3 separate regions of the Homo sapiens genome follow, and regions 1 and 2 are each linked to region 3. Evidence: fine-mapped expression QTL. A gene starts in region 3. Each other region holds a variant in brackets. All regions are shown on one strand. Distances are between the middles of the regions.

What was found. PIP is the estimated chance that this variant, and not a neighbour inherited with it, causes the effect. A credible set is the group of variants that fine-mapping cannot tell apart.
Region 1: its variant is the best candidate, but not a certain one, in a credible set for the expression of MAMLD1 in whole blood (TOPMed, PIP 0.51).
Region 2: its variant is the best candidate, but not a certain one, in a credible set for the expression of MAMLD1 in left ventricle (GTEx, PIP 0.60).

The regions. Positions count from the first base shown.
Region 1 is chrX:150,667,740-150,670,500 of GRCh38, reverse strand. The region is part of intron 14 of MTM1 (myotubularin 1); the gene reads right to left. Among named protein-coding and RNA genes, the nearest start is that of MTMR1, 24 kb to the left of the region's middle. The variant TA/A (reference allele first, on the strand shown) is at 1,584.
Region 2 is chrX:150,494,354-150,497,114 of GRCh38, reverse strand. The region is part of intron 5 of MAMLD1 (mastermind like domain containing 1); the gene reads right to left. LOC124905223 (a long non-coding RNA gene) reads right to left here. Exons shown (of 2, transcript XR_007068346.1): 2 at 1-2,761. Among named protein-coding and RNA genes, the nearest start is that of MTM1, 73 kb to the left of the region's middle. The variant G/A (reference allele first, on the strand shown) is at 1,535.
Region 3 is chrX:150,362,164-150,364,924 of GRCh38, reverse strand. MAMLD1 (mastermind like domain containing 1) reads right to left here and starts at 1,608. Exons shown (of 8, transcript NM_005491.5): 1 at 1,395-1,608.

The DNA.
Region 1 (2,761 bases), 310 kb before region 3:
CATCTGAATACATGGCTGACAGCCATAGCGGCTCTGCAATGCTCCGCCTTGGGTATGAATGCTGGGTTTGCCCCCTCACCTTCTGTGTGCCTCCATTTCCCTATCTGTAAAATGGGAATCAAAACAGCATAGCCCTCACATGGCATTGTGTGAGTGAAGTGAGTTAATAGCATCTGTTTTGCTACAATGGTGACTACTTTGATGAGTAAACAAGGGATTGATGTTGATACAAAGGCAGAAGTCAGGCTGGAGCATAACGTGACTCTCCCAGCATGTTAAGTTTTAAAAGTTTTGTACTGAGATATAAACCACACACAGTGCAAAATCTTCAGATGTTCAGCTCAGTGAATCTTGACATACGTATACATTTAGGTAATCACACCCAGGTCAAGATATACAACAGAACAGTACTCCAGAAAGTTAATGTTTTGAAGGGATCAGGGGCAAGCACTTTCTAGAAAGCTTAAGCAATATATGAAGACCTTAATGTAAAACCCAAAACCATGAAAACCCTAGAAGAAAACCTAGGCAATACCATTCAGGACATAGGCATGGGGAAAGACTTCATGACAAAAACACCAAAAACAATTGCAACAAAAGCCAAAATTGACAAATGGGATCTAATTAAACTAAAGAGCTTCTGCACAGCAAAAGAAACTAGCATCAGAGTGAACAGGCAATCTATAGAATAAGAGAAAATTTTTGCAATCTACTCATCTGACAAAGGTCTAATATTCAGAATTTACAAGGAACTTAAACATATTTATAAAAATAAAAGATAAACAACCCCATCAGAAAGTAGGCAAAGGATATGAACAGACACTTCTCAAAAGAAGACACACAATGCGGCCAACAAAGATATGAAAAAAAGCTCATCATCACTGATCATCAGAGAAATGCAAATCAAAACCGCAGTGAGATACCATCTCATGCCAGTCAGAATGGCGATTATTAAAAAGTCAGGAAATGATAGATGCTGGCGAGGCTGTGGAGAAACAGGAACACTTTTACACTGTTGGTGGGAGTGTAAATTAGTTCAACCATTGTGGAAGACAGTGTGGCGATTCCTCAAGGATCTAGAACCAGACATACCGTTAGACCCAGCAATCCCATTATACTCAAAGGAATATAAATCATTCTACTATAAAGACACATGCACACATGTTTACTGCAGCACTATTTACAATAGCAAAGACATAGAACCAACCCAAATGCCCATCAGTGATAGACTGGATAAAGAAAATGCAGTACATATACACCATGGAATACTATGCAGCCATAAAAAGGAATGAGATCATGTCCTTTGCAGGGACATGGATGCAGCTGGAAGCCATCATCCTCATCAAACTAACACAGCAACAGAAAACCAAACACTGCATGTTCTCACTCATAAGTGGGAGGTGAACATTGAGAACACATGGACACAGAGAGGGGAACACACACACCAGGGCCTGTTGGGGAGTGGGGGGTGAGGGGAGGGAACTTAGAGGATGGATCAATAGGTGCAGCAAACCACTATGGCACACGTATACCTATGTAACAAACCTGCACGTTCTGCACATGTATCCCCCCACCCTTTTTTT[TA/A]GAAGAAAGAAAAGAAAAAAAAAGAAAAAAGCCAAACGTCTACAGAAGTGCCTTCCACATGTAGTGGTTTCCAGAACCATCCTGCTTTCTACTGTGTTGAACTATTTGCTGAAGCTGTGCACACCAACAAGGAAGCTGTGAAGACAATGCACTGATGAAGAATGCTGCGGTTTAGTATTACGTTTCTGTTTTTTTTTTAAAGAGACAGGGTCTCACTTTGTTGCCAGGCTGGAGTGCAGTGCAATCGTAGCTCAGCAAAATCTTGAACACTGTAACCTCGAACTCCTGGGCTCAGGCGATCCTCCTGCCTCAGCTGGCCAAGTAGCTAGGACTGCAAGCATGCACTGCCATGCCTGGCTACTTAAAACATTTTTTTTTTTTTTTTTGTAGAGATGGAGGAGGGGGTCTCACTATGTTGCCTAGGCTGGTCTCGAATTTCTGGGCTCAGGTGATCCTCCTGCCTTAGCCTACCAAAGTGCAGAGATTGCAGATGTGAGCCACTGTATCTGGCCTGGATCCAATTTTTAATGTTCAGGAGAATGGTCTCTATTAGAAGCAGACACTTTCTAGAACCTGTATCCTAGAGAAGGGAGCATGAGCCATGAGGTTGCCCTAAAAAATTTAACACAAACTTGCGTGGCTTTTAAAACAACAGAAATTTACTCTCTGATGGTTCTGCAGGGCAGATGCCCCAAATTAGGGTGTCAGCAGGGCCATACACCCTCTGGAGGCTTTAGGGGAGAATTCTTTTTCACCTCTTCCAGCTTCTAGTGGCTCCAGGTGTTCCTTGGCTTATGGCAGCATCGCTGCAATCTCTGCCTGTTTTCACATGGCCTTCTCTCCTCTATGTCTGGGTCTCAAATCTTCCCCTCCTTTCTCTTAGGAGGACATCTGTCATTGGATTTAGGGCCCACCCACCCTAAATCTAGAATGATCTCATCTTGAGATCCTAAACTTAATCACAACTGCAAAGATCCTTTTCCCAAATATGGTCACATTCACAGGCTGTGGGTCGCTGTCCTTTGGGGGACACACCATTCTACCCACTACAGGCAGCCAAGGCGTGAATCAGCTAAAGCCAGGTACAAATGCAGCAGACATGGAACCGTGCCCACATTTCTACTGCGATTGCTGCTTTCATTAGTGCTCTGGTTACAAAGGCCCATAGGATTGCAGA
Region 2 (2,761 bases), 130 kb before region 3:
TTTTTCCTCCACAAACGTATATAATTTAACTTTAACATTTCAAAATATGTTTAGGGCTGACTGAAATTGACTGGGTCCAAAATCAAATTCACTTCATCATGTAAATTCTCAGATTTGAAATTTAATTAGAGAATTAAGTTCAACTGATAAATTGCTACTTTGACAAGGGGAAAAATAACCCAATAACAAAATGGTAGAATCCATAATGTATAAAGAAATGAAGGAATTACTATCCCCTGGGCAGTTACCTCACTGTGGCACATTCCTGTGGATATCCCATAGTGCTTGGCATAGAGTGAATCTGCAGTATACTTCCCACTTCTGAGGTTGAGGCTGTGGGGCATTTTCACAGTGACCAAGGCTGTGCCTGTTGTCAGCAATGCTGGGTAATGAGGTTGGTGGGCCACTGGGCATCATGCTACTTGGGGGAGCATCAGGGACGGGGTAAAAGAGGAAGGGCATCAAGGCTCTCCAGAGTCTAGAGTTTTAGTAGCCAACAACGGCCTGTGGCAATCGTTGCCCTGACAGTTTCTGGAAGGTTTCTATTTTCTCATGATGATGACGATAATGATGATGACAATAGCTACCATGTATTGAACACATACAATGTGCCAGGCACTGAGTGAAACGCTGTAAATGTTTACTAAGTGAAACATTCAATACCCATGGCAAGCCTGAAAGATGGGTACCATTATGATCCCCACTTAACAGGTGGGGAAAATAAGGTTCAGAAAAGCAAAGTAACTTGCTCAAAGTCACACCATATGTAACTGGCAGAGCTGGAAGCTGAACCTGGAGTTGACTTACATGAAAATCCAGGCTCTTAACCGCAAATACTACAAATGCTTCAATATGAAGCAATATTCAAAACATAACCCTCACCCCAACCCCCACCTGCCTTCCCAGCCTCAAATTCTCTCAGTATCTCCCTGATGGCACCTTGGGCTTCCAAGGGAGCCATCCAACTAACCGTCATGTTCGGGCAACCGAAGAAGGGAGTGGCAGGATTTCCTTTGGAGACTTCTGGAATTAGACAGCAGTTTAATGCAAGCATCTAAATTCTCTTCCTCCCAGAGTCTCATTAAAACTACAGTAAGAGTTTGTGTTTTGTTTTGTTTTTAAAGACAAAATCCCACCAGGATAGAGAGAATAGGAGAGGAGATAACAGCATCATAATTTATGAAACTAAAATGCAGATAGACCAGGATTAACTGACTACACAGCACCAAGGAAGCTGAATCACAAGACAGCAGAGGAGAAAACTGGAAAGGATCGTGGTCTATACGGCAGAATCTTCCCAAGCCTCAGGAGGAGGAGCTCTAGATGTTCCCAGATCTGGGAGGTAAAGTGGAATGGGGGGACATGGTCAGCGTAATGGGGTTGGGCTGGAAGCTGGTTAAGGAGCAGGCAGATCTCTGAATCCCCTCTCTGACTCTGTGTCCCCAGGCATCTGCCTGTCCCCCACCCTGGAAGAGGTCTGGCTTGACCCTTTGTCTGGTGAATTTCCTGCTCTGCTTTCCTGGTCCTGCTGGCC[G/A]GATCAGTGGAGGCCACTCACTTCACCCCACAGGGATGTTCTGTGTTGCCCTACACCTGGGAACTGGAGGTACTGGAGGCAGGCTGTGGTGAGCTTGAAAGCAAAACACAGAGGGCAGTCCAATCTCTTTGGCCATATTTCTTCTGCATATCCAATACCATGTCCACAACTCTGCTAGTGTCCTGATGGTGGTGGGCTCTACACATTCCCGGGAAGCTGAAGGCAGATAATGACCAGGACAGGTCAACCTCTCTTCTTCTGAAAGCCTTCATCTACTAATGGCCTGGGACTCTTCCCTTAAATGCTTAGATTGTGTCTTCCACTAAGGTTTTTTGCTGTTGCTGTTGTTTGTTTGTTTGTTTGTTTGTTTGTTTTGAGACGGAATCTCACTCTGTCGCCCAGGCTGGAGTGTAGTGGCACAATCTCAGCTCACCACAACCTTCACCTCCTAGGTTGAAGGGATTCTCCTGCCTCAGCCTCCTGAGTAGCTAGGATTACAGGCACATGCCACCATGCCTGGCTAATTTTTGTATTTTTAGTAGAGACAGGATTTCGCCATGTTGGCCAGGCTGGTCTTGAACTCCTGACCTCAGGTGATCTGCCTACCTTGGTCTCCCAAAGTGCTGGGATTACAGGTGTGAGCCACCACACCCGGCCAAGGTTTTTGTTTGTTTGTTTGTTTGTTTGTTTTGTATTGAGGCAGGGTATCACTCTGGTCACCCAGGCTGGAGTGCAGTAGTGCAATCACGGCTCACTGAAACCTCCACCTCCCTGGCGGGCTCAGGTGATCCTGCCACCTCAGCTTCCCAGGTAGCTGGGACTACAGGCTTGTACCACCACTCCCAGCTAATTTTTGCGTTTTTAGTAGAGACAGGGTTTCCCCATGTTGCCCAGGTTGGTCTCAAACTCTGGGCTCAAGCGATCTGCCTGCCTCAGCCTCCCAAAGTGCTGGGATTACAGGTGTAAGCCACCGTACCCGGCCCCGCCACTAAGGTTTTGAAAATGAAGCAATTACAAGTTTAAGTCTATTAATAAGTGATGAAGCTATGTAGAAAAGCAGAATAATTATCTTGGATCAGGAAGGTCACATGAGGATCTACTTGGGGGTTGTCAATATTCTATTTCTTGACCTGATCAGTGTTGACAGCAGGTTTTAATTTTTTACTTCTTTTTGTTTGTTTGTTTTTGAGACGGAGTCTTGCTCTGTCTCCCAGGCTGGAGTGCAGT
Region 3 (2,761 bases):
CTGCGATGTCGCTCGCCGGCTCACCGCAACCAGGGAACACAATTCCCCAGGCGCGGGCCGGGGCCGCTGGGGGCGGCGCAATTCCCGCGGGGGTCTACCCCGGGAGACCCAGGCCCTCTCCCTAGCCAACTCTTTCAAAATTGCTTGGTCTCAGGGAGACTTTGCGCCTTTGTTCCAGCGCAGCCGCCTCTAGTAAGCTCGGCTCGCTCGCCCTTGCAGACAATGTCCCGGAGCCGGCCTGGGTTTGCCTACCCGTGAGCAGCACGTTCACCGTGGGGACCGCGCCCCCGGGGGGCACCGTGGTGCCAAACAACAACGACAAGCCACCCCAGCAAAAGCAGCCCCTTCTCCCCACGTCCCCCAGCCACGCTGTGCTCCCGCCCGCTCACACACACCCACACTCCGGGTGCCCAGGTCAGCCGCACCCAGCTGCAGAAGCGCGGCGGGGCGGGAGTGAATGCTCCAGCCCGAGGCGCGTGTTTGCACAGGTTCCGATGGCTTCAGGGCCGAGCTTTCTGGCAGGCTAATCCTATTAGTGTCTGCTCAGTCCGAATTTAATCACGGATCAGAATCAGACGACATCTCCAGCTTTCCAGGAGGCTTCGGACACACTGCATTGGGACGGAGCCTGGCCAAGCCAACTGGCCGAGAAAAGTATTTGGCGGCGCTCCGGGGGGCTTCCCGCCCGCGCTAGCCGGCGCCGGGCGCCCAGCTCTGTCGTCGCGCGGATGCTGGGGAACCTGAAGCGCGGACTCTGACGCAGGGGCGCCGGGGCTGCTCCGCAGGAACCCAGTCCGGGCTGCCCTGAACACCAGCTCAGCTCCGGGCTGCGCTTCCCAGGAGTTGGCAGGGGAGGGAGTGCAGGGCAGCGGATTCGGCGCGCACACTCCACACTCTCGCTCAGAGGCGGCAAACAGCGTTGGGGTGGGGAAATCCTTCATCCAGCGCCCACTGCCTACTGGCCTGGGCTCAGGCAGCTGGCATGTGAAGGCACCGTCGCCGGTGACACCCAGGCTGCAAGCGACCCGGGGGTGCTGGGACAGAGTGGGAGCCTCCCAGTAGCCCAGCGTAGCCCGAGGAGCTTGCGCCCTTCTACCTTTCCTCCCCGGTACGTGGCTGTCCCCGCCGGATTTCAGACGCCCGACGGGCGCCGAGCCAAAGGCCGTGGTCTCCGGCGTTTCGAGCTGCGCCCAGCCCAGCCGGGCTGGTTCGAGAAGGGGGTGGCCGCCCGCAGCGCCAGGTGGGCCGTGTGCTCAGAGCAAACTTTAGGGTCTACCGACTCGAAGCACCCCTGGGACCCCGATCCTCAGCGATGGGGACCATAACTGGGGGCTACAAGTGTACCCCGGAACCCCCAGAACAGTCAGACTTCCTGCACCCGCCCTCAGCCTTACCGTGCTGCAGAGCTCCGGCGGCGGCGGGGGCAGTGTCCGAGGGGCGGGCGGCCGCCGGCGCGGGCAGCCTGGACTCAGGCGGCCGCCAAGGAACCCAGCCCTGTTGCAGATCACCCCCTGGCTAGCGGCCGGTGCCCCCGCGCCCGCCCGCCGCCGGCCGCTTCAGCTCGCGGCCAAGTTCATGCTGGCGGCGCTGCAGTGGCGGCCTCAATCTGCTCGCTCCATTCCCACCGCCCGGCTCCGCGCCGCGCGCCCGGAAGGTGGAGTTTCGGGGGTTTAAGTTACTGATAGGCATTTCTCACTGCTGTGTCACTCGGGGAGGAGGAGACACGCACGCCGCACACTCACACACCCTCACACTCACGGCGACGAGCGGCTCCGGCCTTAAAGGGGAAGCCGCGCTGCCCTGCCCGCGACCCCGCCAGCCCGAAGCCTGGAAACTCAGGGTTTCCACTCCGGGATGGGGCAGCGGGCAGCCAAAGAGCTGCGGCCGCCCGAGGGGCCTCCCGGGCCCTCCCACCAGTCTTTAGAGGAGAAAGCGGCCGCAGGCTGGCTTCGCTGTTGCAGCCTCATTTCTCCAGTCGGCTCGAACCAGGGCAGCTGGGGAGGGATCGGAGGGGCGGAAGGGGCATCGGTGCACTCACCTTGGCTGCTCCGCACTCAGTGGAGGGTGGTCTGTGCCCCCGGCGTCAGCTGGCTTGCCTAGGCGGTGCGCTGGTGGAAAGAGGCGACAGCAGGGTTAGCGGAGCGCCTCCAGCAGACAGAGCCCGCCGGAGGGCCGCAGGCGGGGCCCGGCGCGCTTGGGAAACCCGCACGCCGAAGGTAGACTTTCCGCGTCTGGGGAAAACGAGCTGGTGAGCCGTGCGTGGCCGGGACACACGAAGAGCGAGCACGGAGAGCCAAAAGCCAGCGGTCATCAGTGACAGGGCGAGAGAGCGCTCAGGACCGAGAGACCAAGAAAGACAGGAGACCGTACGAGACACAGAGAAGGCAGAGACTGAGAGACAGATACCGAGAGAGGCACCGGCGGAGATAGAGGTAGAGACACGATGAAGGGAGAGGAGAGGAGAGGAGATGAGAGGAGAGGAGAGGAGAGGAGGAAATAAGGAGAGGAGGAGAGGGACCAGAGAACAAGAGAGCTTGCAAGAGGAATGACAGATCCCCAGAGGACCCTGAAGTGTCACAGGGACGGGAGTCTCATCACAAAGTAGCCTATTCAGCCCCCATCCCCCTTCCCATTTTCACCAGAGCCTGACCCTAGGGCTAGCGGCCAGGCCCTTCTCCTCCCCTCGCCCTGGGAGGGGCACTCACCTGCAGTGGGTGGCTGCTGGGTGGGTAGCGCCAGTCCCTCCGCCCACGCATCCGCT